Linked DNA regions of Homo sapiens: all the other regions are linked to region 1. Evidence: fine-mapped expression QTL. A gene starts in region 1. Each other region holds a variant in brackets. All regions are shown on one strand. Distances are from middle to middle. Region 1 holds the start of IGFBP7 (insulin like growth factor binding protein 7). Region 2 overlaps IGFBP7-AS1 (IGFBP7 antisense RNA 1). Region 3 overlaps NOA1 (nitric oxide associated 1). Region 4 overlaps IGFBP7 (insulin like growth factor binding protein 7). Region 5 overlaps POLR2B (RNA polymerase II subunit B). Region 6 overlaps IGFBP7 (insulin like growth factor binding protein 7).

Region 1 (5,073 bases):
GTTATACTCAAGCATAACTTAAGTTTCTTCTGAGAATAGAAGGGAACCTAGAGGTCTAGAGGAACCTAGACAATGCATTTCCTATTCTGTGCAAAGCCCCAGTATGAAATGGCACAGAAGTAAATGGCACTCTGTCCAGTTTGCTTCTATGATTGTCAAAACCCATCCAGGTGTCAGAAGAAATATTTAGGGGATGTGATAGGGATCAGTCTATTGTCTCTGCTGTGGAAAGTTTCTGCTGTGGGAAAGGCTTCCCATTCTCTTCTGCTCTCTTTGGCATTCTCCTATAAATGGTCTCTGCCATTTAGAACTCATCTCTCTCAATTTAGGATGAGAAGAAATGGCTAATTTAAGTCAAGGTTTCCAGTTTTAGATGCTGTTTTCTCTAACATTTCCCCAAATATAAAGAAAAGCCGGGCCGGAACCCTCAAAGGGTTTGCAGTCTGGAGAGGTACTGAGCTGGGTGTACATGGTAATGAGGTTATGAAACTGGTTCTATATGACTGTCAGTCTCAATATTTTATAATCAGACTGTGTGAGTGTTTGGTGATGTAAGTAGCAGGTGAGAAAAAGGAATATTAAGTATAAACTAGAAATTGACAACACTTGAACAATCACCAAGCTAACCTTCTGCTCTGATAAGGCAAGTATCTGCCATTTTGAAAAAACTATAAAGTTCCCCATTGTAATGTTTATAAGAAAATCTCAATATTTGGAATAAATTCTTAAATAACGCACATTTATCTTTTCATGATGTGACCGACAAATGAGATCCAAAGTAACAAATAACTGTTTCTATTGTAAACATATGCAGATTATTTTGGGTTGCAATTTTCTAAGTTTAAGGTGATGATACTATAAATAGTTACTAGTGAGTTACACAATTTAAGGCTTTCAATAGTGAACTCTGAAATTGATGACATACAACCTATTAGTTTGTGGACTTCTGGGAAAAGCTCTAAAGAAAGAATTTGGAAATTCTGGAGAAAGTCTGAACTGTGTTAAAGAAGCAACAGCTTCTGTAACCTCAGAACTGCCTCCTCTCCCTTTTCTACCTTGGCTAAGATCAGGAGCTGCCAACATTGAATGTCTGACTTTCCCTTGAAAATACTGCCAATGGAAAATGTTATTTCAGGCATTAGAGTTAAAATTTCTATGTGTGTGTGTATGTGCGTGTATTTGCAAGTCCAGACTTTATTTTCTTCTTTCTTTCTTTTTTTTTTGAGATGGGGTCTCTGTCTGTCACCCAGGCTGGAGTGCTGTCATGTGATCTCGGCTCACTGCAACCTCCGCCTCCCAGATTCAAGCGATTCTCCTGCCTCAGCCTCCTGAGTAGCTGTGATTACAGGCATGCACCACCATGCCCAGCTAATGTATATATATATATTTTTTATTAGAGATGGGGTTTCACCGTGTTGGTCAGGCTGATCTCGAACTCCTGACCTCGTGATCTGCCCATCTTGGCCTCCCAAAGTGCTGGGATTACAGACGTGAGCCAACCCACCCGGCCTATTTCCTTATTTCATTTACAGCAAGCTTGGACTTGTTTGGAATAAAATAAACAATCAAACATAATCTCAAAGACATTTCTGCTGAACAGTGTATCCTGGGGACAAATTATGCAAAACAATACAAATCAAAGAAATAGGAAGGAAAAACAAAATGGTCAGAAGGTTGACAACAAAGTGCATCACAAAAACAGTCTTCAAAGAGTTTGTATTTTATTTTTGCCCACAAATAATTAGCTAGTTAGATTACTGTTTGAGAACCTATAATTTTTAGAAAGTGGACTATTTTCTTCAATACTAAGAAATCAGGGCTGTGCACGGTGGTTTATGCCTGTAATCCCAGCAGGCCGGGATTACTTGAGCTCAGGAGTTCGAGACCAGCCTAGGCAACATAGTGAAACTCCGTCGCTATAAAACAAAACAAAACAAAACAAAAAACCAAAAATTGGCCAGGCGTGGTGGCACAGGCTTATAGTCCCAGCTACTTGGGAGGCTGAGGCAGGAGGATCGCTTGAGGCAGAGGTTGCAGTGGGCCAAGATCGTGCCACTGCCCTCCACCCTGGGCGACAGAGCAAGATCCTATCTTTTAAAAAAAAAAGTCTGTCTGGAAGTCCTTACTTTATATTTAATTGTCAAACTCCTTTCCCCCATCTCTTGACTTCACCTCTCTCTACATCCCCAAGCCAAGAATGATGAGAAATGGACAGATGTTAGCACGAGTTGGGTGCGCTTTGGGCATGGGGAAGTCTGAGGTCTCGGAAAATCTTTTCTACATATACACCCGGCCCTCACTTTCTGGACGCACGCAGCAAACTCTCAAAATAAAACCACCAAAAAGGAGAAGGGGGGGCGTCGCCCACCGCTCCTGGCATTCCGCGGCTGCCAACTCTTTCCCTCCCATCTGGCTCCTGGGATGCCCGCGGGGGAATCGCAGTGAGCAGCGCGGGGCGAGGCCGCCGCGGACGCCCCGTCGGATGTGCCCTTCGCTGGGCCGAGCGGCGCAGGGTTGGAGAGGGAAGCGCTCGTGCCCACCTTGCTCGCAGGTGCCCTTGCTGACCTGGGTGATGGCCTTCTCCCCGCGGCTCTCGGCCCTCTGGCTGGCGGCGCGCAGCTGGCAGCCGCTCGGGTAGGTGGTGCCGTCGCTGCCGCACACCGGGTAGCGGCTCTTGCACACGCACACGCCGCTTACACCCGGACCGCCGGCTGCTGCCCCGGCTTTACCCTTCCGCCTCTTGCGGCTCTTCACGCACTCCATGCCCGGCGCGCAGTACCCCCTGCCGGCGCCGCCACCCCCGCACGGCTCGCCCTCGCCGCGGGCGCACATAGGGCAGCAGCCGCACGCGTCGCGGGTCTCGCCCAGCAGGCAGCCCAGCGGGGGCAGGGGCGGGCAGGAGGCCGGCTCGCAGGGGCCGCAGGTGTCCGAAGAGGAGGAAGAGGAGAGGGGCAGGAGCAGGAGCAGCAGCCCAGCGGCGCCGAGGAGCAGGGCGCGCAGCGACGGCCGCTCCATGGCGGGGTGCGGTGGCAGCGGCAAGGGCGCGAGTGAGCCGTGTCGGGCCGGCCGGCGCCTTAAACCCGCCGCCCCGCCCGGCCTGTCCGCGGGAACCACACCCCGGGGCGGTGAGAGCACGGGGGCCCCGCCCGTGCCGCCCTCCCGGCCCCGCGGGGCCTGCGCGCGCGCTCCTGCTGGCGTCGGGGGGTGAGCGGGCACCCGGCGTGACCGGCCCATGGGCGCTCGGTCTCACGCCCGCTTCGCAGAGCTCACCCCGCCAGCTCCTGCTCGGTCCCCAGTCCCCTGCCCCGAGCCCTCAGGGATCGCACCGCAGTGCGAGCGGCTCTTCCACCCTCTGGTTTCTCCCCGTTTCCGGTCAATATATTTAAACTTCTTAACAACCACGGCTTCGAGACGATCCAGGGTTTCATCTATTAAATCCTCCGTGGGCCTGAGACACCTGAGTGCTCATTACTCTGTGGTTTGGGAAGCTCTCTTAAGAACAAGCTGTTAAAAACCCCCACTTGTGGACTGTGTCCCCGCTGGCCACAGGCCTGCTGTGGTCTTGGGTGTCAAGCACTAAAAGGACAAACCGTTGCCAACCACTTCCCTTTCTGGAACCTCTTAACTGCCTGCACCTCCCTCCCCGCTTTGTCTCCCAGTGGCATTCAACAAGACTCTGTGCTTTTTTTGTGCTGAGCCGTTTTCAGTGAGTACTGGAATCCGTGTGAGAGCTGTGCCCTTGTTTTGAGTTCTTGCTGAACTGCTCGCCCTCCAGCAAGCCTCTCGGGAGAACAGAGCGCAGCTGAGAGGAGCAGGGGTCCCAGCTCCTTCCTCGTTGGAGCTGCCACGGAGGCACCTAAAGCGCCCCCAGTCTTCACCAGCATTCCAGGAGGTTTTTGATATAAACGGTGGACTCTTCCTCAGTCTTTCTGCGAAGTGCTCTGCAAACTCAACTTGAAAGCCTCTCTTCCCAGGAACACTGGCCTCTCCAATGCAGACATGGAAGTTGCTTTCACTTTTTAACTGAATGTGTAACATTGCAGCGTGCATTATTCTGCATGTCACATTGTGGTTCTTTTGTGTTCTTTTTTCTTAGCATAAATCCAGGGATTTACAGGGTTGCTGACTGAAAGCCAGCAGTTCAGTTCATAATCCCATTAGCAGTGTAAAGAACTCATTCTCAACAGACTCTTACAAGGATAATTATTGCAAATTTTTTGAAAATTAAATGACCACAAAATCGGGGGGTGGAGAGTGGGGAAACATCCTCCAATCCAGAAAAACCTAGCACTGCTTTTTGGCCTCTCCTTAGTGTATTATAGACAAGTGGAGCATTTTTTTTCCCCTCAAAGGTCATATGTTGACCTGACAGTTGTTTAAAAAACAATGAAAAATCTTTACAGCAGAGTTTCCCTAAATATTTTTGTCTTTGTTCCATCCTAAGAGATGCAGTTTACATGACCCATTTGTTTTCTTGAAAAGGAAACAAATGCAGAGTGCACTCTATTTCCTATTGTATTTAATTTCTTTCTTTCTTTCTTTTCTTTTCTTTCTTTTTCTTTTTTTTATTTTTTTGAGATGAAGTCTCCCTGTGTCGCCTAGTCTGGAGTGCAGTGGTGAGATTTTGGCTCACTGCAACCTCTGCCTCCCAGCTTCAAACAATCCTTCTGCCTCAGCCTCCCGAGTAGCTGGTATTACAGGCATGCACCAACATGCCCGGCTAATTTTTGTATTTTTACTAGAGACAGGGTTTCACCATGTTGCCCAGGCTGGTCTCAAACTCCTGACCTCAAGTGATCCACCTGCCTCGGCCTCCGAAAGTGTTGGGATTACAGGTGTGAGCCACTATGCCCGGCCCTGATTTCCTTTTTATTAATTCACTGGTCAAGAGCCACTAAATTGGTTCCATGATCTAGTATGACGATCTGTCATAGTTTTAGATTCTCCAGAAGCTTTCTCTGAGACAAGGATTCCAGTGCAAGTAGGTCACCTGAGAAGCCACATCAGGACACAGAGATTGAGGGTTGGGGCAGGCAGGTGAGCAAGCAGGAAGGGAAGACAGCCAATAAAGGT
Region 2 (5,073 bases), 37 kb after region 1:
AAGAATTCCATAAAAATGTACATTGCTTTTTAATGTTTTCTTTTGGGTTTTGGATTCTTTTGAATGCAAAACTGTATTGTGACTCATCATGAAATACCCAGTTTTATTTGGGTTACAAAAAAAGAAAACATTAAAAATTCATAATTCCATCTTTAGACTCTACTAGGGTTTAAAACATGGTAAAGATAGTATGTATGCATATGTTTATTTATTTTTTTGAGATAGGGTCTCACTCTGTTACCCAGGCTGGAGAGCAGTGTCACGATCTCGGCTCACTGCAATCTCCGCCTCCGGACTCAGGTGATTCTCCCACCTCAGCCTCCTGAGTAGCTGGGACTACAGGTGTGTGCCACTGCACCTGGCTAATTTTTGTATTGTTTGTAGAGATGGGGTTTTACCATATTGCCCAGGCTGGTTTCAAACTTGTGGGCTCAAGTGATCCATCTGCCTCCCTTCCAAAAGGCTGGGATTACAGGCATGAGCCACCCTGCAAGGCCAAGAATTTTTTTTTTTTTTTTTTTTTTTTTTTTTTTTTTTTTTTTTTTAGAACATGGCTCACTGCAGCCTCGACCTCCTGGGTTTAAGCAGTCCTCCCATCTCAGCCTCCCAAGTAGCTGGAACTATAGGCATGCACCACCACATGGGCTAATTAGTGTTTTTTTTTTTTTTTTTTTTTTTTTTTGTGGAGATGGGTTTTCGCTTTATTTCCCAGGTTGCTCTTGAATTTGTGAGCTCAAGAGATCCTCCATCCTTGGCCCCCCAATGTGCTGGGGTTACAGGTGAGAGCCACCATACCTGGTCCATTTATTGTCTTTTATTCCTCTGAGGAGAGCACACACACAGAAAATACATCATGGTCTTTTCAAGCACGTAGAGCTTGCTAGCCACTGGCTTCTTCTCTTGATAATGGCTCTAATGTCATAATTAGCTTGGCCTCTTCTAGAATGTTCCTTTCTGATAAAGGCATTTTGGCTGTAGGAACTTGTGACCAATGCTGTAGGTGCAATCTCAGAGGACTTGAGACATCAAAACCTTTTGTTTCCTCTGTGAGAGAGAATTCTCTTCTGTGTAGAGAATTATTGATCAACCATCTTTAGTTTAAATGATTATGTGTAGCTGCTAGTTCTAAATAATACATGGATTCCCTTCTGTAATTCTCTATACATGCTTTCACCAAAATAAATAAATAAATGATGAAAACTATGGAAGACAAAATCCTACATTATTTTGAAACAACAAAGGCTAAAATAGGGGCAAAACCCCCTTCAAGTCCTTTCAAGAGGGTTGAAAGGAAACTTCCTTTCCTTCTGTTTGGACCTCAGGGGAGATTCTTATCGTTTCTGGAATCCCATGCCTGCTTATGTTTCCCAGATGTTCTTTCAGATAATTAATCCCTCCTCCAATTTATTCCTCCTCTTCTCCCTGCACCCAACAGAAATAGGTTGAAAATTCTTGCACCTTTTTGATAAGAGAGAATGGACATAAAAAGCATCTAATGACTAAAAATCCTCATATAAATGTTGTAGAATCATTTCAATTTTTAATAGAAGTGTACCTGTTAAAAAAGGACTAGAGAATCCACCAAATATCAGAGTCCCTTGGTCTTGCATTCCTTAGTTTCTTACTCTTTTTTCTTTGGTGATCACTGTACCTCCTTCCTTACCCTTTCTCTCTTGTCCATTTCTGGAGAGTTGCTCTTGACTTCCAGGAATTTCTTGGCATTTCTGAAAACCTAGTTCCCCTCGTCCCCTTCTTATCCCCATGGTGTCTGATATTACTTTTAATATCATCTTCAGTTATCTCTGTTGCATGTTGGTTCCATTAATATGTGCTGAATAGCTCCTTTTTGCCAGGCATGTCTCTTGGAACTGAAGATTGATGCAAAGATAAATTGAGATCATGGTCCCTGCCCTTGAAGGTAGGAGAAAGGAAAGCCCCACATTAATTCACTATGCAGAATCTGACTGAGATGTCAACAACCCACACTGTTATACAGATATGACGGCAGGTGGGGGAGCTGGGGAGGACACTTTTGTCTGCATGACTCTAAAGATCTGCCTGTTTCCCCTCCACTGTGCTGTCCTCCCTCAGCTATGGCTGGAAGGCTGAGAAACAAATCCACTACAGTTGGGGAAAAGGAACGACCACATTGTGAGCATCCGCTATGTGCCTGTCACTCTGGATATATCGTTTAAAGGATATAAAGTAGCCATTGAATTAGTGTCTGCACTTTCTACATGGAGGGAGGGTTGAGATGTTTTAATTAGGTGACCCAGATGCATATTTAGAGGCTGTGAGTGAGAACACAGAGGACAGGAAGCATTTATAGGGTGGCGGTTTAGG[G/T]TTAAAAAGTTCGTATTTCAAGATACAGCAGGAGGCAAAATGGACAAGGCCAAGGAAGAGTGGAAGTGGAAATACTATGTCTCAGAGAGCAAGGGGTATAGTATTTTTCCTGAGATAGGATTGAAGAAGGGGCAATGGATAAAGAGATACATTCAAAGATGGAGAGAAGAGCATTTGGAGAATCTATCCCCAGCAGGTTTTTACCAAAGCCAGTGGGTCCAATGATGAAGGTTACATTAGATCATTTCAAGGGTTTGGTGTCATAAAACACAAGAGACAAACTGTTTCTATTAGTAGTAGAAATGGGAAGGAGCAAAACAGATACACACTAAGTAGGTGGGATGCCAGCAGTTCAGTATTACCTTTATAATAGTTACATAAAACAAGCCAGGAAAGAAAGTTAGTGAATATGGGCTCTGGGTCATTATAGAATTCATTTAGAGAAGAAGAATTTCAGTTAGTAGCCTTCCTGAAAAGAGATGATAAAGAGGCCAGGATTACGCCCAGGGTCTAAGTACCGGCTGAGTATGAGGAAATTGACTCTCCTCCAACTCTGGGGTAGAAGAAACATGATTGGATCAGAGGGAGAGAGATGATTGAGTCATTAGTTAGGCAAAGCAAGAGCTGACGACAATGATAAAGCACTAATGCATCCAAGAGATTTTTTTTCCCCACTCTAGTGGCAATTTTTTACACTTTAAAAAAAGAAAGTGAAGTCGACTGATTTGTCTTGCTGACTTTAGAAAGCATTTAAAAATCTTTTAATGACACTCGATTATGTTAAACGGTACATTTCTCCTCTTTAATTTCTGCTTGCCTCAAGTGTGTCCACCCACTTGTCCTAGTTTCCCTGATTAGGCACCTGGTGGCAACCAATGATGTGAGTTACAGGAATGAAAAGGCATAAAAACCTACTTTAGGTTTTACTGAAGTTCCAGGAGGCTGGGCGTGGAGGCTCCCACCTGTAATCCCAGCACCCTGGGAGGCTGAGGTGGGAGGATCGCTTGAGCTCAGGAGTTTGAGATCAGCCTGGGCAACATAGTGAGACTGTCTCTACAAGAAATAAAAAAATTAGCCGGTGTGATGGTGCACTTGTGTAGTCCCAGCTATTCGAGAAGCTGAGGTGGGGAGGATAACTTGAGCCCAGGAGTTCAAGGCTGCAGTGAGCTATGATTCAGCCACTGTACTCCAGCCTGGGCAAAAGAGTGAGACTCTGTCTCTAGAAAAAAAGGTTCCAAGAATGTCATGGGGAATTTTATCACTTCTATTCTCTGGACATTTCACTGGGACTAATTTCTCTCATAAATTGGATGGGTGTTTTCCTTGAACAGATTCTGGACTAAATTGGGAAGTGGTACCTAAGTGCCTTCTTTGCCTCTTTTCTGTGACTCATTTCCTGCTCTTCATGTCTCTCTCCAATCTGGATGTTTCATATTCTCATAAAGGCTTGTGCTCAGTGCCTGTCAACTTAGAAGACACCTCCGCTAATGTGGAGATAATAGCTAGCCCTCTAAGAGCTTAGCTTCTGGGATTCTTACAAGGGCCATTCAGAGACCTCACTTTGATTGAACTCAAATGAAACAATGTTTTTTTTTTTTTGGAGACAGGGTCTCACTTTGTCACCTAGGCTGGAGCACAGTGGCACAAATATACCTCGCTATGATCTCGAACTCCTGGGCTCTAGCGATCCTCCTGCCTCATCCTCCTGTGTGGCTGGAACTACAGGCATGCATCATCATGTCCAGCTAATTTTTTTCTTTTTATTTTTATAGAGACAGGGTCTTGCTATGTTGACCCTGGTCTCAAACTCCTGGCTTCAAGTGTTCCTCCTGCCTCAGCCTCCCAGGTCCTGGGATTATAGGCACAATCCACTGTGCCTGGCCTGAAACAAATCTTTAATGGTAAAATTTTAGGTATCATAATAGGTTGCTGGAGAAGTGTTCTGGATTAAGGAAACTTTGGGAGTCCTTTGAATTCTACCCTGTGAGAAGCTTCACACACTTAGAATTTCTGAGCTCACCAGACTCTGATGTCCTAGTTGCTAGGAGTTTAGAGTAACATGAAGCTGACACTTGGACACTGTTCTTTTCCTCTGTTAATCATCTATGACTAACCAACCACATTCTGCAGGACTTAAAAGTATTCTAGTAGCCAAATTAGCTAGTAGTCCTTAATGCTTTTAAGCATCAGAAAGTGAAAAATATCAAAGAACTATTGCTGCATTTGAGGAGCTAGAATGAAGTTTGGTTTGGCTTGAGGAGAATTGATGACACCCAGGAGTATGTGCTGGTTTCCATTTGGTTCCCATTCACAGGCAAACGGAAAGTACATACAGCCTGGGGTAGGTCAGGCCAGCAGATATTTAAGTTGTTCAGTAGTGGCTGGGCCTGGGAATATGGGGTGATTTTGAAGAATTAAGTTCTGCAAAAGATTCAAGAGTACAAAGCTGTCTTCATCTTAGTCAAATGCAGGCAATCAATCTGTCCTTTGCATGTAATAAACTGGGACCTTAGAAGTGAAGATTAAATAATCTGGGATGGAAAATTGGTTGGAGAAGGTCCAGCCTGACCTACATGTAGACATTTCTCCTGCCTTGTCTTGTCTCTTGCTACAAATCATCCTGCAAGGATTAGGTAACAGCAACTTCAATTCACACACCTTTGAAGGATGGTGACTTCAGCATTATCCACGGTGAAATTCACAGCCAACAATCAATACGTATTTTCAGGC
Region 3 (5,073 bases), 140 kb before region 1:
TGGGATTACAGGTATGCACCATTGTGCCCAGCTGAGCTCAGGAGTTTGAGACCAGTCTGGGCAACACGGCAAAACCTCACCTCTATGAAAAATACAAAAATTAGCTGGGGTGGCGTGTGTCTGTAGTTCCCAGCTACCCTGGAGGCTGAGGTGGAGGATTGCTTGAGCCAGGGAGGCAGAAGTTACAGTGGGCCAAGATTCCACCACTGCACTCCAGCCTAGACCAGACTGGGCAACATAGCGAGGTCCTGTCTCTACAAAAACTAAACAATTAGTTGGGCATGGTGGTATGTACCTGTGGCCCTAGCTACTTGGGAGGCTGAAGTGGGAGAATTGGTTGAGCCCAGGACTTTGAAGTTACTTGATCACGCCACTGCATTCCAGCCTGGGCAACAGGGGAAACCTTGTCTCTCTTTTTTGTTGAGACAGGGTTTCACTCTGTTGCCCAGGCTGGGCTGCAGTGGCATGATCTCGGCTCACTGCAACCTCTGCCTCCCAATAAGTGTATCAAGTGATTCTTGTGCCTCAGCCTCCTCAATAGCTGGGATTACAGGCATGTACCACCATGCCCAGCTAATTTTTTGTATTTTTAGTAGAGATACAGTTTTGGCATGTTGCCCAGGCTGGTCTCAAACTCCTGGGCTCAAGCAATCCTCCCACCTCGGCCTCCCAAAGTGCTGGGACTACAGGTGTGAGGCACTGTGCACAGCCTGAGTCTTAATACTTTCATTTCACAACAGAGATCCTTGGTTCAGTCTGGGAAACCCTGGTTTAAGACATCAAATAAGTTTATCTGTAAACTAACAGAGAAGCAAACTACCAGTGCTGACAGACGTTTATATCTAAAAATTTGGGGTTCTCATTCTGCTGTCTAGAGTATTTTGCAAATTCTTGCCTTTCTGACACAACTATTTAATAGAGGATATATGACTGAAGTAACTGCTATGCCTGATCTAATAGCATCTGAAAGGGAAGAATTAGTCTGGGCGTAGTGGCTCCCATCCACAATCCTAGCACTTTGGGAGGCTGAAGTGGGTGGATTACCTGAGGTGAGGGGTTTGAGACCAGCCTGGCCAACATGGCGAAACCCTGTCTCTATTAAAAATACAAAAAGTAGCTGGGTGTGGTGGTACATGCCTCTAATACCAGCTACTCGAGAGGCTGAGGCAGGACAATCGCTTGAACCCAGGCGGCAGAGGTTGCAGTGAGCCAAGATCATTGCGCCACTGCACTCCAGCCTGGGCAAGAGAGTCAGACTCCATCTCAAAAAAAAAAAAAAAAAAAAAAAAAAGTATGGTGGGGGAAGAATTAGTTCATTAAGCTAAAGTGACAGAATATTATTAGAAAGCAGCTCTGAACTTTTGGACTGCTAAGGAAGAAAAGATGGCATGAGCAATTATTCCAGGAGAGCAATAAAATTTAAAAGGTGTGTATGATTCAATGACAGGGGACACCAAATAGAATACAATTCTGAGAATGTAACTATAAGTGTTCCTGATGAGGCCAAGAAAAGTACCTAAGAAACCAATGTGGTTTTGTAGGGAGATACAGAGATAATTAGAAAATCGGAAACTGGTCAGTAACCAGATTCGAAGGAAATGATTAATGAATCTGTTGTGAGGCTGTATCCTGGATGCACATTTGAGTCAATCAATGATCTGAATGAAGATCCAAACTGCAAATATAAAAAGTAATGAGATTGAATGAATATTTAACAGAGTAAGATATAGGCTGAATTTAACAAGACAAAGTCAAAGTTACCTATGAGGCCCAAAGTTGTCCATGAGCAATTGGATAAAAGAGAGGCATAGGGACAAGACAGGTGGAGTTAATGCTATTCTTTTTTTTTTTTTTTTGAGACAGAGTCTTGCTCTGTCACCCAGACTGGAGTGCAGTGGCACGATCTCAGCTCACTGCAAGCTCCGCCTCCC[G/A]GGTTCACACCATTCTCCTGCCTCAGCCTCCCGAGTAGCTGGGACTACAGGTGCCCACTACCTCCTGGCTAATTTTTTGTATTTTTAGTACAGACAGGGTTTCACCGTGTTAGCCCAGATGGTCTCGATCTCCTGACCTTGTGATCTGCCCGCCTGGGCCTCCCAAAGTGCTGGGATTACAGGCGTGAGCCACTGCGCCCGGTCGGAGTTAATGCTATTCTAAATCATGCTCACCTGAGAGCACTGAGTTCTCAGTGTCACACTTTAAGAACAAACATAGAAAACATTCTGAAGAGGCCTGGGCCAATGAATAGCCTGTTTCCTACAGCACAGCTGTAGGAAATGAAGACAAATAATCCAGATTGTGGGCACAGTGAATGCTCAACGTTTGCTGGATGAAGTAATGAAAGAGAAGAAAAGGGAGGGATAGGTGAAGAAGAGATGGGACGTTACATTTTAAAATATTTGTCTGGCAAGGGAAATAGGTATTACCTTAGTCCCAGATGGCTTTGGGGAACAATGGATACATGTTACAGGGAGACTATTCAGCTCAGTACACTCAATACAAAGAGAAGGTCAAAGACCCAAATGAGTTACCTTGGAAGGTGACATGACAGTTTCAGCTTTGGTGAGTCACTCCTTTCAGTTCAAGATGGAGGACCCCTTGATGGATATGTTACAGAGGTAATTCAAGCAGGGACTAGGGAGTTGGACTCCAGTGATATTTATGTGTTTTTCCAACCTCAAAACCTAGGCTTCTGTAAACGTTTCCCTAACCAAGGTAACAATCACAATGATAAAATAAGTTGGTTGTCAGCAATGAAGTCTATCAAATGGAACACAGAACTTGATGGCATACAGATTCACCCCTAAACAGCTTTCATGAATGAATCAGAACTGAGTCTAAAATGGAAGTATACTTCTTTTCCTGTTTTCTGCCAATTAAGACAGCAGTACTTGTGCAATTGAAAGTAAATGTTTCTGAGGCTGATATGACTAGTAATAAAACTCCAGTTTCCCATTTAGCTGGCTCTACATGCATTACACTCTTTCTCTATTGCAATTCCCCTGTCTTGATAAATTGGCTGTATCTGGGCAGCAGGCAATATAAACCCATTAAAAAAGAAAAAGAAAGTAAATGTTTCTAAAAGAAACCAAATACATACACAATTTTCTTTTGTAATTCCAGGGGTGTCATAAAACCAGTGGGCATCTTTCACATCTTGTGCAGTCAATTCTACTTGTTTGGTGGATTTGTGTGTACCCATAACAGGGTCATTTTCCATGTCAAAGGCAAGTGAATCAGCATCAAACTCAAAGGGAATGTTATCCTTCTGTTCTTCTGAATACAAGAATGTCCTTCCAACTCTTCCTAGAACAAGTTATAGTAAGGTTATTAGTCACTCCTTTAATACTTTTAACTCCAGACATAATTTTTATGTTTCCCTCAAACAAGTTACTAAGATTACAGTGTAGGGAAGTGAGACCATAATGATACTTTTGCTTTTTTTTTTTTCCAAAAAGCAGTGGGAGTCAACTCTTGCAATAATCAAGCGTGTGGCTGGCTGTGTACATGGAGTGGCGGGGGCAAGGGTGTGTGGAAATCAGACTGTTTTAAAGAAAGGCTGAAAAGATATACCAAGGAAAGACAGACAACCTAATCTAAAGCTGCTGCATGGAGTAAAAACTTTTACTACCTGTACTGCTCTGGGTTTCCAAACAGTAGCCTTATCGCTAAAGGGCCTCTTTGTTGCAGAATAAGGAAGGCAGTCTCTCCCCACAAAAACTGGCTAGCCTCGGACAGCTGTATTTCAGGTTGCTTAACAAAGAATTTTAGCATAGTACCAACGAGGGTTTTCCCATAGAGGATGCTTACCTACGACATAACCATGCTTTTTGAGGACATTAAGCTGATTTTGTTCTTGCTCACTAAGATCTTCTTCAGCTTGAGTTGAATCTTTTTTAAGTCTTTGATGCCTTTTAAACATTCTGTAAGGAGTTGGGTTGCAAATAGGAAACTTCAGAAGGTTTAATGTAGTACCTGAAATACACAGAATAAATACATCTTTACAAAAGGGAATAAGGGGGAAGAAAATGAACATTTTTGAGGATCTACACTGTGTTGGTTACTGTAATAAAATATAAAATTACTGCCACTTTACAAATGAGGAAATAGGTTAAGAGATTAGTTCACAGGGGAAACCAGAATTGGAATCCAAAATCTGTAGGCCCGATTTCTTTCCATTTTTATCACATTACCATTCAGTATAAAAGTAATTTTTCTGTAAAATTCAAAGTGCAAGACAGAGAAGAGCAGCTTACTAAATGAAACTTTGGTTTCAAGGGAACAAATGGGGCAGTCAGTTTTGTCAACTTAAATTTAAGCCTGGCTGAGCGTAGTGGCTCACACCTGTAATCCCAGCACTTTGGGAGGCCCAGGCGGGTGGATCACTTGAGGTCAGGAGTTCGAGACCTGCCTTGCCAACATGGTGAAACCCTGTCTCTACTAAAAATACAAAAAATTAGCTGGGTGTGGTGGTGCACACTTGTAGTCCAGCTATTTGGGAGGCTGAGGCAGGAGAATCGCTTGAACCTGGGAGGTGAGGGTTGCCGTGAGGCGAGATCGCACCACTGCACTCCAACCTGGGCGACAGAGTGAGCCTCTGTCTCAAAAAAAAAAAAAAAAATTTAAACCATAGAAGGACTCATTTTCTAATTACAGAAGTTTGTTTCTTTCTTTCTTGTTTTTGAGACAGCGTCTTGCTCTGTTGCCCAGGCTGGAGTGCAGTGGTGTGATCTTGGCTCAGCCTCCCAGGTTCAAGCGATTCTTCACCCTCAGCCTCCTGAGTAGCTGGGATTACAGGCACCAGCTACCAAACCCGGCTAAGTTTTGTATTTTTAGTAGACATGGGAGTTTCACCATGTGGGCAGGTCTGGTCTGGAACTCCTGACCTCAGGTGATCTGCCCACCTTGGCCTCCCAAAGTGCTCGGATTACAGGTGTGACCCACTGCACCTGGCCACAGAAGTTTCTTAAAGTCACAAGACTGATACTTCTGTTTTTTTGGGTCTCTGTTGTCCAGGCTGGATTGGAGTGCAGTGGCCCAATTAGGGCTCACTGCCACCTCAACCTTCCAGGCTCA
Region 4 (5,073 bases), 69 kb before region 1:
GCTTGAGCCCTTCGTGGGATTTTCACAATGCAGCAGGGAGAAGGGAAGCCCTTTCTTTCCTCTGGGGTCTTTAAGCTGTAATAAAAATGTGAGTGGAGTTGATATCTCCCACTGCATAGGAAGCTTTCTGAAGCAGAAGAAAATGAGACTAGTATATTGAGAGCAAAGAGTCAAGAGTTAGAGTTCTGATGGCGTGTGTACCTGGATGCAGGGGCCCTTGAGGCTGGATCCCGCCCCGCTTTTTGTTTTGCCTAGGCTGGTTTCAAATGGGCTGGTAGAACTTGCAACAGAAAGAGCTCCGACTGCGGGAGCCACAGTCCTCCTGGAGTTCTAGAAGTTGCTTCTCCGGTCACACAGAGAGCAAACAAAATAGTCAAGGGAGACTATCATCCACCTTAGAGCTTGCTGGAGAAGTAAGGCAGCTTAAAATGGATGTCTGGTTATGCCCTTTTACTTAAACTAAGTTCCTTTTTTGGTAGCATGAGTTTGATAATTTTTTAATTTTTATTTTTCGTAGGATAGTTGTGAGGCTCAGCAATTCAAAATGTATAAAAAGGACAAAAACGACCAGGCGCGGTGGCTCACACCTGTAATCCTAGCACTTTGGGAGGGCAAGGTGGGCGTATCACCTGAGGTCGGGAGTTCGAGACCAGCCTGACCAACATGGAGAAACCCTGTCTCTACTGAAAATACAAAGTTAGCCAGGCGTGGTGGCGGGTGCCTGTAATCCCAACTACTTGAGAGACTGAGGCAGAAGAATCACTTGAACCCGGGAGGCGAGGTTGCGGTGAGCCGAGATGGTGCCATTGCACTCCAGCCTGGGCAATAAGAGTGAAACTATGTCTCAAAAAAAAAAAAAAAAAAAAAAAGACAAAAACGTAAGTGTATGGTATAATTGTGAGGTGTTAGTTGATGGCAAATAAGTGTTTTCTTTTCCCTTCTCCATACATGCTGAGATGATGTTGTCCTTCAAATATGAAGATAATTATACAAGATAATGCCACTTGAAGGGAAAAATTTCCAGGAACAGTAGCTAATGTCTACTGAGTGCTAACTATGTATCAAGTAATTTTTACTTGCATTACTTTATTTCATCTTTATGATAATTACATGCTACTTTTATAAGGTAGAGAACAGAGTTGAGGCTAACAGCAGTGGTTTTCAGTCCAGGGCAATTCCCCAGCTCCACACCCTTAGGGGACATTTGGCAATGTCTGAAGATGCTTTTAATTCTCACGACAGGGGGGATGGGGGAATGCTACTGTTATATAGTGGGTAGAGGCTGGGGATACTGCTAAACATCTTCCAAAGCACAGGCAGCCCGCACAACAAATAATTATCTGGCCCCAAATGTCAATAGTGCTGAGGCTGAGAAACCCTGACTTGCAGAGAACTCAGCCACCCTGGCTAAGGAATTCACACTCTTTTTTTTTTTTTTTTTTTTGAGACAGGCTAGAGTGCAGTGGGGCAATCACAGCTCACTGCAGCCTCAATCTCCTGGCTCAAGGGGTTCTTCCACCTTAGTCTCCTGAGTAGCTGGGGCCACAGGCATGCCTCACCATGCCCAGCTAATTAAAAAAATTATTTGTAAGAAGGAAGTCTCACTGTGTTGGTCAGGCTGGTCTCAAACTCCAGGACTCAAGTGATCCTCCTGCCTCAGCCTCCCAAAGTGCTGGGATTACAGGCATGTGCTACTGCACCCAGCCTCACACTTTTTTTTTTCTTTTTTTCCATTTGGGAAGTCATTTCAAAGCTGATTTATTAAAAGAATATCATGCTTTTTCCACTTGGGGCTGGGGCCAGCATTTAGCAAAATTCAGAAAGGAGACATTTTTTTCTTTGCTATTCCTCCTCTTGTTCCTTTTTAATGCTCTGTTCTGGAGTGGTCTCCTCTGTCCCTAACTTATGGTTCTACAGCCTTGGTACTTAGGAGAATAGATCCCACCTCATTCCTTCTATCCTACTTCCAAGTGCCCTTAAAATGTACTCATCCATCTCCCAGCACTTAGGGAATCTGAAAAAATAATCCATGCTCCCAGGAGAAGGCTACAGGGCTTTGTGTCCTTTTACCTTCTTAGCCGAGCCTCCCAGTAAAATAATAATAATGCCTCCAAGCAGACAGGATCTAAATTATCAGCTAAATGTTCAGTCTTAAATGAGGAGACTGATGCCATCACAAACAGCTTGGTGGGGGCTTGGAGGTGGTATTTTGGGACAGAAAGAGAGAAACGTACGCTTTTAACCCCTATGCTATACTGTCTCCACTGAGGGCGCAAACACAGACACACACACTTTCACTCGCACCCACATATGCACACACATACACACACCACAGGTGCACACACACCCTGAAGGTGGGTTCAGGTGTTCAGCATTATTGTTCTTCCAGTTTCTCAGATTCTAGGATGCTGCTAACAAAAGCATGGCAGGGACTGGTTTTTGTTCCATGAATCCAGGGGAGGGGCCTGTATGACTGCCCTAAGGCTTCACCTTGCGGGAGCCGCAGTCAACAAAGCAGGCTGAGGATTTAACGTTTTACCATCCTTGTGCAGTGCAAGAGAAGCTTGTCAGCCTAGGATGTCTCTTAAAGTCTGTGCCAC[A/T]GACCTTGTTCCAGATGAGGACAGGTGTCGGGATTCCGATGACCTCACAGCTCAAGTACACCTGGGCACCAGTGACATTCCAGATGTCCTTGGGGGGCGTCACTATGGAAGGACCTGCAGGAGAGGGCACAAAGCCAAAGTCATCTTTTAAACAGTCCTTCACATGAGTCAGCATCTTAGGGAGAAAATAATAATTTTGTTTATGAGGCCATCCCCTTGATGGATTATCTGAAGCAAATTTCAAAGACCACACTGGCTTCCTCCTGCCACCAACATGATTTTAAGGTCCACTTTGGGAATGCATAAATCTAAACAAACAAAAACAATTAGGAAGAAAAATGTGTTATTAAAATTTTCTTCTTCCCCAGACCATGCTTAAATGAGTGCTAATTTACCAGCTGTTTTTTTATTATCTGGGACTTTTCCAGTAGTAATAAAATTTTAGTTCCAAAATGTTCAATGTTTTTCTTCTTTTGTTTACCACTATTTCTATTTTGGGTTGGAAAGGCAACAAGCAACCGCTCCATGGGTAATGAAGAAAAAAAATCTAAGAGAATATTTGAAAATGTGCTAAGCACCCAGACAAGATGGAAGTCTCTGCCTCAAGAAGCTTAGGATCTAAGGTTGAAAAGGGTGATGAGGCAGGGAAGAAAAGAAACATGTGGAGTGCTGTGTGCGTCAGGGGATTGGAAGGGACATCTTTATTTTTAATTTAATTTTATTATTATTTTTTTGATACAGAATCTCATTCTGCCACCCAGGCTGGAGCGCAGTGGCTTGATCATAGCTCACTGCAGCCTCAAACTCCTGGTCTCCAGCGATCCTCCCACCCCAGCCTCCCGAGTAGCTGGGACTATAGGCGTGCACCACCATGTCAGTTAATTTTTATTTTTTATTTTTGTAGAGACGGGGTCTTGCTATGTTGCCCAGGCTGGTCCCGAATTCCTGGCTTCAAGTAATTCTCCTGCCTCAGCCTCCCCAACTGCTGGGATTACAGGTGTGAGCCACCATGCCTGGCCAGGAGGCACCTTTGAACAGAAGAGGCCCGGGTGTCGAGGAAGGTGGTACAGGGGTCCTTCTTCCAGTGTGCTCAGGAGAGGCAGCTGGTAAGAAGGAAGAAGAGTGACTGATCTATTGGGTGTGACCAGGGTCCCCAAGGAGAGGGCCCTTTCCCAGCGTTCTCAGTGTCCAGGTCCCTGGCAGGAGGCATTGGCAAGTGGGGGGCACCCTCAAGCCACGGCCTAAATAGAGTCAGCAGGTATGGGGCCACTGAGAGAGGCCAGAATGATGCTTCTCCATTCCCCCAATTAGGGAACACACCCCCCACCTTCTGTATCATGGCACCCTCTGGAGAAGTTCCCTACTCAGAGTCAACACAAACCATGTGTATCCTTTTTGCTATGAAAGTGGTATGACTCTCTGGTCCTGGGTTAGCTAACTATGGCCTGTGGGCCAAATCTGGCCTGCCATCTGTTTTTGCATGGCTTATGAGCTAAGAATGGTGTTTGGATTTTTGTTTTTTTAAATTAAGAAAAATTTTATTTTTTTGAGACAGAACCTTACTCTGTTGCTCAGGCTGGAGTGCAGTGGCATGATCTTGGCTCACGGCAACCTCCGCCTCCCGGGTTCAAGCTCAAGCAATTCCCATGACTCAGTCTCCCAAGTAGCTAGGACTACAAGTGCATGCCCAGCTAATTTTTGTGTTTTCAGTAGAAACAGCATTTTGCCACGTTGGCCAGGCTGGTCTCGAACCCCTGAGCTCAAGCGATCCCCCCACCTTGGCCTCCCAAAGTGTTGGGATTACAGGCGTGAGCCACTATGCCCGGCCTGCAGTTTCAAATGGTTGAAAAAAAATTAAAAGATGGATATTTCATGACGTGTGAAAATTGTAAAGGAAATGTCCATAAAATAAAGTTCTGTTGGAACACAGCCACACTTATTTGTTTCCTGTGGTCTCTGGCTGCTAGAGCAGTTGTGGCTGAGACTGTATGGCTAAAATAGTCACTGTCACTGGCCTTTTATAAAGAAATTTGCTGATTCCTGCTCTAATCAACTGAGGGAGACTGATGCCTAAATAAGACATTATGGGAAAGTCTCAGGACTTCAATCCTTTACACATTTTCCAGAGCTGATGCAAGTAACCCCCTGGGTGATTTCTGGTTTGGCTCTGAAACACAAAACTGTGGAAGCCAACAGATACCGAGAGAGCGGGTGCTTGCTGACTGCGCCTGTCCCCTGACGGCCTGGCTTCCCGGCATCTGCAATAGAGATGTGAACACCAACTTTTTAGTTACTGGTAATTAGTATGTCACTTCTGCTAATTCTGAATGCCAGGGTTCAATCACCAGGGGCCTTCAGAAAGACTTGGGACCGTCCGCAGAGGAGGGTCATGGAGCTGGCAGTCTGGGATCCTCATGTGGGGCAGTGTGAGACTCCAGAACCTAACCTGGCTCTTATTCCATGCTTAGCATGG
Region 5 (5,073 bases), 76 kb before region 1:
CCGCGAATGATGAGTGTTTAGCTATTTTACAGGAGTCAACAAGATAATTAAATATCTTGGTGTCTTGTTTCTATTGTGTGGCTTTTTAAAAATGACAAATATGTACTGTGTTGTGATAAAAAGTATTTTATTTGTTTAATGATATGCATGCTTTTCTTCTGTAAATATATAATAAATTTTTGTAGATAGTCTTGATGTGTGATCTTTATTTTGTATTTCTCTGTGTAAAACCAGTGAATATAACTAAAGTGTTAGTGGATTGGATTAAAAGAAACTTATTAGGCAAGAACAGGTAATGTAGTTATCCATGACTACTTTTAACCATGCAGACTAATAATATTCTGGAGGTTTATAGCTCGGCACCTTCACCTGTTTAAAAAAAAAAAAAGATAAAAATTAGTTACATATGGGGATGTGGTTGACTTTTGAATTGGCAGGTAGTTGAGTGTTTCCAAATAAATGAAGATGTTAAAATATGGGGATAAAGGATATATGAGTAATTGTATAAATGATATGCTGGAGTGCTCTGTGGAACTCAAGTTACATGATTTTAGCTATGAAAGGCAATTTTGCTGTATTGGTTGATGCATCAAAGGTACATCTTATTATAGAACTGGAAGAGCACATTTCACAATGAGATTCAGAGAGGTTAAAGACCTTTCCTTTGTAGTCCGGATCTCCTTCAAAAGGTAAAGTGGAGGAATAATTAGTAGCAGAGCTGAGACTCAAACGCATGGCTTGACTCTTAGCTACTGTTCTGTTTCATTGCCTGACATTACACATTATGGCTGAAGAGAATCTGACCAAATACTTCTTTACTTAATATTTCTTTTCATATCACAGCTGAGTGATCTGCACAGTGGAATGGTTTGACACATGGTGACGGTAAATTTTGTTCTTTTGTCTAAGGGAAAGCCAATTCAGACATCAGTTTCATAGAACTATATAAATGTAAAGTAGCACTGCTATGACACAGGATGGGTTCTTCAGAGGAAGCTTTTTGGCAGTGAAGGAAGGGGAGGCAGAACAGAACTGGGTATTTGCCAATATACTCTCCTTTGTGGCCTTTTCTTTTAAAAGCAAAAGTGAAGGGCGAGAATTGCCCACAATCATTTTCTTTTAAATAGGAATTTAATAGTCACAACACAAAGGGAAAATGCCAAGTAGATAGGTAGAAAGCTATGGGAAATAGAAGCCATTCCAGGCAAGTTTGATTTTGACTCTTACATGTTAGATAAGGTAAAAGCATCTAAGTCATAATAACGATGTTCAGTCACCCATCCAGATAATCTTTTGGAGTCTCATGCTGTACATTTTAATGGCATACTTAATGCCCTTATGGGTTGCTAACTACAGAATTTCATCAATAGCTACGTCTGATACTTTCATACTTAGTTCTGTTCTTTTTAAAGCAAATGTACTAGTCATTTTTAAATGGCTGTGAGATTTATTGTGTACCTTTTTTCACTGGTATTTCATGTAAGGCATCAACCACTGTAATTTTTGCTGATGCTGAAGCCTGTCCTTGGGAATTGGATGCATGGCACTCATATTCTCCAGCATCTTCCTTACTTAGAGGAGATACCTGTGAAAGAAAAAAGATCTAGTATTCCTCTGTGGTGGTCTTCTCTTTTGTCAGTGGTTCCAGTGAGGTCATTATTTCATAAATTTCCTAAGATGACCAGGGGATTCATAGCAAAGGTACTGCTAGAAGCAGTGCAAGTCCTGTGATAGGAGACTTCGATAACTACCATATTTGGTTTGCTGAGGATTCATATGAGGAAATGTCATGGACAACTTTTGATCATACTGCATAGGTTAAAAACTGGATAGGTACACATTATCGGTTTAAGGGCAACCTTGATAAGGGTATATGATCAAAGTATTCTCCATGAATATCCAGGGTCAAGTAAAATAAGGTATTTATTAATCGATAATCAGTTAAAACAATGCTTGGGCCACGCAGCTCCGTGTGAGGATTTTGCTTTGAACTCTTAGGAAAATACTAGTTCTTGTTAATTCATTGGTTGTTTTCAAAACATGCAATAAAGCACTTTTCCTTTAGTTTCTCTGAAAGAGGAGCAGCGACTCCATGGTAAGGCTATTCCAAACAGATGTGGAAGAGCAAGCACCTTTAGGCTGGCGGTACATCAGGCACCTTTGCCAGGTCTGCTTATGTCTAATGCTAAGAATGAAACTCTTGCCAGCTCTTGGTACTGGTACTCACCAGCACCCAGCCAGTTACTTCATGCTTTTCTGGGCCACCCCGGGTCTGAATGGCCAGGTTGTCCCGGTCACCAGGCAGGAGTTCTGTCCTTTGAACTCCATAGTGACCCCTTTTTACCTGCAAAAACAAAAGGAGAGTAATACTGAGTTTTGTACACCAGATCATCTACTTGGAAGTGGCCACATCCCTACAATTGCACATAGTGTATGTCAGACTTTCTAACAGAGTAAACCCAGCATTTCACTGAACTATTTCCCTTTCCTAAATACTTTTAAAATATAGATCCTCTTTTATTTCTTCCTGCCAGTTTCCTGCTAAGCGTACATGTTTTAAACTAATGTATTTTTCTGCATGCCTGGGGAATATACATGGTCATAATTTCCTGCCACTGGTCACCATCATTCATTCACTCATGCTCTTGGAAATTCTGCTTCTCAGTTCCAGGCCTTTTGCCTGTCATGCCATGTTCAACTGATGAACTGTCACCCAGCACTAGGTTTGATGCTTGGGACCTTGGGGCTCTTCCTGCAACAGCTTCATCAATGGAAAATAGGCTGAGACCAAAGCCAATACCATTACTTTATTCTGAGGGCTAAGAATTAATCAAATGATTTACTGAACACCTAAGATAAAAAACACCTATCAAAGGAGTTCGAGACCAGACTGACCAACATGACAAAACCCTGTCTCTAGTAAAAACACAAAAATTAGCCGATTGTGTTGGCGAGCACCCGTAGTCCCAGCTACTCTGGAGGCTAAGGTGGGAGAATTGCTTGAACCTGGAGGCGGAGGTTGCAGTGAGCTGAGATCGCGCCACTGCACTGCAGCCTGGGCAACAGAGTGAGACTCCATCT[C/CAAA]AAAAAAAAAAAAAAAAAAACAGCTGTCAAATACATGTGCTGTCATTGTTCTTTTATGACAAAACTTGCTGACTGTTTCTGTGTATGTCATGTCAAGATTCAGAAGAAACTCAGTTTCTTTGGTGCAAGGCCAATACTGAATAGTATCCTTTTTGCCCTCATTTTAAAAGGCAAAATGTTTTATTATATAAACTCTGGAAAATATACAAAAGAATGAAATTCACTTGTAGCTCCTCGATACATATACATTTAGCAGCTGAGTTACAGAGTACAAATATTTTAAGCCTTGTGATAATGGTGAGTTTTAAAAAAAAAAGGATATACGAATTGTTTGTTCATTCCATCCCAGATCTCCTTTAAGAGCCAACCTGACATTTATTGATATTACCTTTGTAATTAGAAAGGATTTACAACCTCAAATAGCTAGTTTCCTTTTCATTTTCTTCTATAATAAAGCAAATCTTAATAAAGACCAGATAATAGTGTGTATATATAGACACCGTATGTATAAATATAATAAATATATAAATAAATATATACACTTTATTAACTTCCATCTCAGTGTTGCTTTTCCCATGTGGATCCCACTCCTACCATGTGTTTTTTGGTACTCTGCTGTTGTGTCGGCTTCAAACCTACACTGTATTTTCTCAGCTTTATGATGCCAGGACTGGGATTCAGCAAACCACATGTGATCTAGGCCAATTCCTGCTCTAGAAAAAATATCTTGCATGATTTGGAAAGCCTGGCTTTTTGCATTTTTTTTCTGGAATTTTCCCACATTGCCACTATTAGTGAGAGAAAACCACGTAACTTAATGTCTTTCTCATAAATGCTGTGAAGACAAACATACTCAATAGGTACCTTTTCCCTTAGTTTCCCAAGTAGCTGGCAGAAACGGTTTATGCTAATACAGCTTTTGAAATAGTTACTTAAAAATGGGTTGTAAGAATATTTTGGTAGAAGTATTAATTTGATCCAAGGTCTCAAGTAATATGACTCTGACCTTTATTTACTGAATTTCAGAATCATATGAGTTTTATGTGTGACCAAAGCAAGAAAATAAACACTGCAGCACTGAAATACTGAATCTCAGCAACTAAGCCTCAAATCCCATAGCTCTTAGTAACAGCATTTTATGCTAATTAACCTGATCCACTATGGAAAGGGAAATGTATCTTGTTAAATATAATATTTAACATAAATCACAATATAGATATACTTTATTTTTCCCTTCTTTTCACAAGTGTTGGCATGGCGTATTTTAATTAATGTTACGTAATTATAAAAGGTTATACATCATGTAGAAAACATAGAAAAAAGTGCCAAGAATTTTCATATGACAAATTTTTATATGTCAAACTCTCCCTTATTCGTGTAAGGGGATTCTAAGTGTTGTTAAGTATGTGTTTTCTTTTTTTTTTGAGACAGAGTCTCGCTCTGTCACCCAGGGTGGAGTGCAGTGGTGCGATCTCAGCTCACTGCAACCTCTGCCTCCGCCTCCGGGATTCCAGTGATTCTCCTGCCTCAGCTTCCCGAGTAGCTGGGATTACAGGCATGTGCCACCACGCCTGGCTAATTTTTATAGTTTTAGTAGAGACGGGGTTTTGCCATATTGGCCAGGGTGGTCTCGAACTCCTGACCTTAAGTGATCCACTTGCCTTGGCCTCCCAAAGTGCTGGGATTACAGGCATGAGCCACTGTGCCTGGCCAATAAATATGTGTTTTCTAGTTAAAATTGGAATTAAAACTAAAAAAGAGAGGTTAATATTCAGTGCTAGTAAAGATGCAGAGAAATGGCACTTCTCCATTTCTGGTGGGAGTGTGAATTACTACAATCTATTTAGAAAGTAATCTGACAATGTCTGTTAACACTGAAACAAATATTTTGACTTAGGTAACTGTTGGGGAATCTATCTTATAGCAATACAATCACTAGTATGTATGATATGTGTACTTTGATGCTTAAAGTAGGTTTTTTAAGTTAACAAA
Region 6 (5,073 bases), 61 kb before region 1:
GTCTCCCAAAGTGCTGGGATTACAGGTGTGAGCCACTGCACGCGACCAAAATCTCTTGATAAAAGCAAATTACAGAAGTTTTAGAGAAAGGTAAATGAAGATACATGGTGAGAAAGAATAAGCAAGCGACTTAATGGTGACCCACAGGGACACCAAGAGGACAAGTCTTGTATAGAAGAGAAGAGATGCTGAAAATGTTTTCGGTGGATACAATGCCAGCCCCAACAATGCTGCACTCTCCTCCCCGACTCTCAAGAACTATCATCCCACACATTCCATTGATCAGCAATTTCACTGCCAACAATCATCTTGAATTGCAGGTCTGTCCTGCAATTCAATCCCTGACAGTTCTGTTCTACCTCAGGAGAGCACTGTACTCAATGACTCTGTACCAAATAACTTCTAACTCTTTCCACTCTACCTTTCTTCCAAGAAGGGCAAGGCAGATCGAGAATTTATTTCTGTTTTTAAGAATAAAGAAATTTTTAGGTCACTCTGAGCTAATTTTCTCATACAGAAAGCTCAAAATCAGTCCTCAAGGCCAGGTCAAGGGTAATAACAACATTATCATCTAACTCATACTCAGTGTTTGGATTCCGTTTAAAACAGGTCACAGAATTCTTAAATGTATAGGGACAAACATCAGGATAGGTCCAATTATTTATTTATCCTTGCCCTTGTTCCATTAAGAGCTCCAGACTGCTCAAACATCTGTCTAGCAAACATCCTGTTCATAGAATAAATGACTGTGCGCTGCCTCCCTCTGCCTTGTACCCACCCTCGGCAACTCCAGAAAGCAACCAAGTCATCTGCAGTGCTGCCTGATGTAAAGAGATGTCCACCCAAGGTGGACTACCTACATTTTTCTATCCAGATGACTGTACCCAAACCAGGCTACCCCACTTTCCTTTTACCTTACACACTCAATTAATTCTCATTCAATCTCTTTAGATCCTTCTCAACCCTCTAAATTCATTTTCTTGCCTTCCCTATTTTTTATAACTCTCGCTCAGTAACTTTAGAGTGTCTCTTCCTTTTGATCATTCCTTAGAGGGTCTCTTCTTTTTGAACATTCCTTGAAGGGAAAGAAGGGAGAGAGGATGATATGGTTTGACTGTGTCCCCACCCAAATCTCAAATTGTAGCTCCCATAATTCCCATGTGTCATGGGTTGGGGGGTACGCGGTGGAAGGTAATTGAATCATGGGGACAGGTTTTTCCTGTGCTGTTCTCGTAATAGCGACTAAGTCTCATGAGATCTGATGGTTTCATAAAGGGCAGTTCCCCTGCACATGCTGTCCTGCCTGCTGCCATGTAAGATGTGACTTTGCTCCTCCTTCGCCTTCCACCATGATTGTGAGGCCTCCCCAGCCTCATGGAGCTGTGAGTCCATTAACCATCTTTTTCTTATAAGTTACTCAGTCTCGGGTATGTATTTATTAGCAGCATAAGAACAGTCTAATACAGAGGAGGTGAAGGAGAAGGAGAAGAAAGAAAAAATGAAGAAAGATAGCCAGATCCTGAAGGAAGTTATAGCAAGGAAGAAGAAAGTTCTAACCTTGGAAGAAAACAAAAATTCACTACTATGAAATACATCCTTGGAACAAAATTACATTTGTACTCCATAAGTTTATGCAAATAAAAAATAAACATTAAAAATAAAGTAAATTAAAATTCAATTTAATGAATCATATCACCTTAAAAGTACTTAGAAGTCTCCTGCAGAATCTCCACCTAAGTCTGCATACTCCTCCTTTGCTACATTTTTTCTTTTTAGAGACTGGGTCTTCTCTGTCACTCAGGCTGGAGCACAGTGGTGCGAACATGGCTCACTGCAGCCTCAATCTCCTGGGCCCAAACAATCCTCCCACCTCAGCTTCCCAAATAGCTAGGACTGCAGGTGTGTGCCACCACGCCTGGCTAAATTTTGTATTTTTTTAGATATGGGGTCTTGCCATGTTGGCCAGGCTGGTCTTGAACTCCTGAGCTCAGGCAACCTGCCTGCCTCGGCCTCTCAAAGTGCTGGGATTATAGGTGTAAGTCACCATGCCTGGCTTCTCCTTTGCCCCCCTCCGCCCCCCTTTTTTTTTTTGAGACGGAGTCTTGCTCTGTCGCCCAGTGTGGAGTGCAGTGGTGCCATCTCGGCTCACTGCAAGCTCCACATCCTGGGCTCACGCCATTCTCCTGCCTCAGCCTCCCAAGTAGCTGGGACTACAGGCATCCACCACCACTCCCGGCTAACTTTTTGTATTTTTAGTAGAGACGGGGTGACCGTGTTACCCAGGATGGTCTCGATCTCCTGACCTCGTGATCCACCTGCCTCGGCCTCCCAAAGTACTGGGATTACAGGAGTGAGCAACAGCACCCGGCCTCCTTTGCCACTTTTAATTAAGTTCTAGACAAAGGACTCACAGACTACCAGATTATTTTAAGAATATTTGATTATAATCTAGAAATAGGTATGTTCTGAAAAAGTACTACTGATACAGAAAAGGTAGTTTTATAGATGGATGGATTTAAATTTGGAGTATTATGAGTTGGTTCAGAAGAATTTAAGAAAGGCAGTTCTCACAAAACACACAAATATCATGAGGAAAAGACTTTGACATGAAATTAATTTTGAATTTGACCAGCAATTCATTCCAGCTGATTTTATATAAAGTCTTGGTAGTGAGGACAGAGTTAAAATGTGTTATCCTATAAAAAGCACAGCAGGAACAATATTGAAGAAGT[A/T]TGTGAACAATTTCCTAGTCCCTTACAGAGCACAAAGCACTCCCCAGCCATGACCTGAGATGTCCTCATGATGTTACTATTTAAAAAAAAGAGACAAAAGCATTCTTGGGGACAGAACACTTGGCTCTGAATCCTTGTCTACAATTTATAGCCAAAAGACCTTGGACAAGCCACTTAACCACTTTTACAAGATGAAGAAACTAGGAAGTGTCTAAGAATATCCTCTTTGGGTTTGGAAGTAAGTGAACCTATCATGAATGTGTCCTAGAGCTGGGACATAGATGTCAAAGATGCTTTGACATTTATGAAGTTCTGAAGTCTCACTGTCTGGGTCTGGAGCTCTCATTCTCTGCAAATCAGTTCAATGCATTTCCTCACCTACCTAAACACGATGTATGTGACTCATAACATGGTTCACTTCCTCAGGGATTAAAAAAATAGAGCTTATAAAGGTATCACCCTTTACCCAGTTAGCCAATTTTTTTTTCATCTGAAAGAGCTGTGTAGAAGATATTAGGAGAAGTCATGTTTGAAAGCTAAATATACTTGAATTAAGCCTGGGAAATGGTCAAAAGTCAAATTACCCCCAATAATCATTTCTGTCCTCCAATATCATATTGTACTATATATTTTTTGCTTCGTTGCTTTCTCATTTGCCCATCATCTCTTCCATTTTTACCAATTCACTCTTCTATGTCATTTCTACCCAAACTCACTGTCTGCTCCCAGCAGTCCTGCTCACCCACCATTACATGTTCATTACCCCTTCCAGCACCTTTGCTTATGCTGATGCCCTTACCTACTTGGAATATCTTCCCTCCTCTTATTTCTTATCACACTTTATTTGACATTCTAAGACTGAAGTTTCATTTCTCTTTGACATTTTTTGCGGCCTGACAGCTTCAGGCTCCCCCTTATTTCTTCTCTAAAATCCTGTTGGTTTCGGTAAGTTCCACAGAGTGTAGTGCATCACTGTTTTCTAATGCTTTCCTTAGCTGGCCTAATTGAGGATGCCAGCATCCTGTCGGAATCAGAACAGAACCAGGAACTACGGAATCAAAAGATCTTCATGTTCATTGGAAGGAGACAGAGCTCAGGCTGTGTGAAGTGGGTATAGGGCAGCAGTAACTTCAGAACAACATAACATGATTAGCCAAACAGAAGTGAAAAGATAGCCACTGTCTTGAAAATGCACCAGTGTACACATGGCCAAAAGCGTACACCTCACCAAAGTGGTGTTATAACTATCTTATTTATCAGCTGGCAGATTATTAATCATGATTTTCTTTAATCTTTCACTTGACTTTCTCTTGCCATAAGCAGTGTTTCTTGGCTACTAACCACTCACCAACCAATTAGTATATGACCAGGAGATGCAAATTAATTTGAATATACATCACTTGAAGCAAATCCCACCGAGATGGGTAGGTCTGCTGGAAGAAAATGATTATCAATTATCCTCACACCAAAATCATGCTGGGTTATACTATTCACATTATGGTTCTCACTGAACATTTATTTTATTTTTATTTAAGTTTTTTTTTTTTTTTTTGAGACAGAGTTTCGCTCTTTCGCTCAGGCAGGAGTGAAGTTGTGCAATCTCGGCTCACTGCAACCTCTGCCCTGTGGGTTCAAGCGATTCTCCTGCCTCATCCTCCTGAGTAGCTGGGATTACAGGCAGCCATCACCATGCCCGGCTGATTTTTGTATTTTTAGTAGAGATGGGGTTTCACCATGTTGGCCAGGCTGGTCTCGAACTCCTGACCTCAGGTGATCCACCTGCCTCAGCCTCCCAAAGAGCTAGGATTAAAGGCATAAGCCACTGCACCTGGCTTTTCAAAAGTTTTTATAGACAGAGTCTTGCTCTGTCACTCAGGCAGGAGTGCAATGGTGCTACGATCATAGCTCACTGCAGACTCCAAACTCCTAGTCTCATGGGTCCTTCTGCCTCAGCCTCCCAAGGAGCTAGGACTACAGGCAAGTGCAACCATGCCCGGCTAATTAAAAAAGAATTTTTTTTTTTTTTTTGTAGAGACAGGGTCTTGCTTTGTTGCCCAGGCTGGTCTCGAACCCTTGGCTTCAAGTGATCCTCCCTCCTCGGCCTCTCAAAGTGCTGGGGTTACAGGCATGAGCCACTGTTCATGGCCTCTTGCTGAGTACATGCTAACATGGCTAAGACATTTGAGTATGGGGACTTCTCCGAGTTATGATAGATTTGCAAACAACACTCACCTTGACTCTTGATGCTGGGTCCTGAAAATAGTGTGTGCATTAATACCAAATAAGGGGAAAATCAGGGTTTAAGAAGGACCTCAGATACCACATATGGAGATAGAGAGTT

What was found.
Region 2: its variant is fine-mapped to the expression of IGFBP7 in whole blood (TOPMed, PIP 0.93).
Region 3: its variant is fine-mapped to the expression of IGFBP7 in whole blood (INTERVAL, PIP 0.91).
Region 4: its variant is fine-mapped to the expression of IGFBP7 in whole blood (INTERVAL, PIP 0.98).
Region 5: its variant is fine-mapped to the expression of IGFBP7 in monocytes after LPS (Fairfax 2014, PIP 0.95).
Region 6: its variant is fine-mapped to the expression of IGFBP7 in left ventricle (GTEx, PIP above 0.99).

What each region holds. Positions count from the first base shown.
Region 1 is chr4:57,107,337-57,112,409 of GRCh38, forward strand. It overlaps IGFBP7 (insulin like growth factor binding protein 7), which reads right to left and starts at 3,049. Exons shown (of 5, transcript NM_001553.3): 1 at 2,541-3,049. The coding sequence starts at 3,015. IGFBP7-AS1 (IGFBP7 antisense RNA 1) reads left to right here and starts at 2,426. Exons shown (of 5, transcript NR_034081.1): 1 at 2,426-2,634. RefSeq lists a silencer at 3,118-3,187.
Region 2 is chr4:57,144,633-57,149,705 of GRCh38, forward strand. All of the region lies in intron 1 of IGFBP7-AS1 (IGFBP7 antisense RNA 1), which reads left to right. Among named protein-coding and RNA genes, the nearest start is that of IGFBP7, 37 kb to the left of the region's middle. The variant G/T (reference allele first, on the strand shown) is at 2,344.
Region 3 is chr4:56,970,051-56,975,123 of GRCh38, forward strand. NOA1 (nitric oxide associated 1) reads right to left here. Exons shown (of 7, transcript NM_032313.4): 2 at 3,808-3,972; 3 at 3,098-3,303. Among named protein-coding and RNA genes, the nearest start is that of NOA1, 5.0 kb to the right of the region's middle. The variant G/A (reference allele first, on the strand shown) is at 1,932.
Region 4 is chr4:57,038,220-57,043,292 of GRCh38, forward strand. IGFBP7 (insulin like growth factor binding protein 7) reads right to left here. Exons shown (of 5, transcript NM_001553.3): 2 at 2,605-2,714. Among named protein-coding and RNA genes, the nearest start is that of POLR2B, 62 kb to the left of the region's middle. The variant A/T (reference allele first, on the strand shown) is at 2,601.
Region 5 is chr4:57,030,968-57,036,040 of GRCh38, forward strand. POLR2B (RNA polymerase II subunit B) reads left to right here. Exons shown (of 25, transcript NM_000938.3): 25 at 1-191. The coding sequence ends at 21. It overlaps IGFBP7 (insulin like growth factor binding protein 7), which reads right to left. Exons shown (of 5, transcript NM_001553.3): 3 at 2,228-2,344; 4 at 1,459-1,585; 5 at 1-369. The coding sequence ends at 350. Among named protein-coding and RNA genes, the nearest start is that of POLR2B, 55 kb to the left of the region's middle. The variant C/CAAA (reference allele first, on the strand shown) is at 3,082.
Region 6 is chr4:57,045,979-57,051,051 of GRCh38, forward strand. The region is part of intron 1 of IGFBP7 (insulin like growth factor binding protein 7); the gene reads right to left. Among named protein-coding and RNA genes, the nearest start is that of IGFBP7-AS1, 61 kb to the right of the region's middle. The variant A/T (reference allele first, on the strand shown) is at 2,733.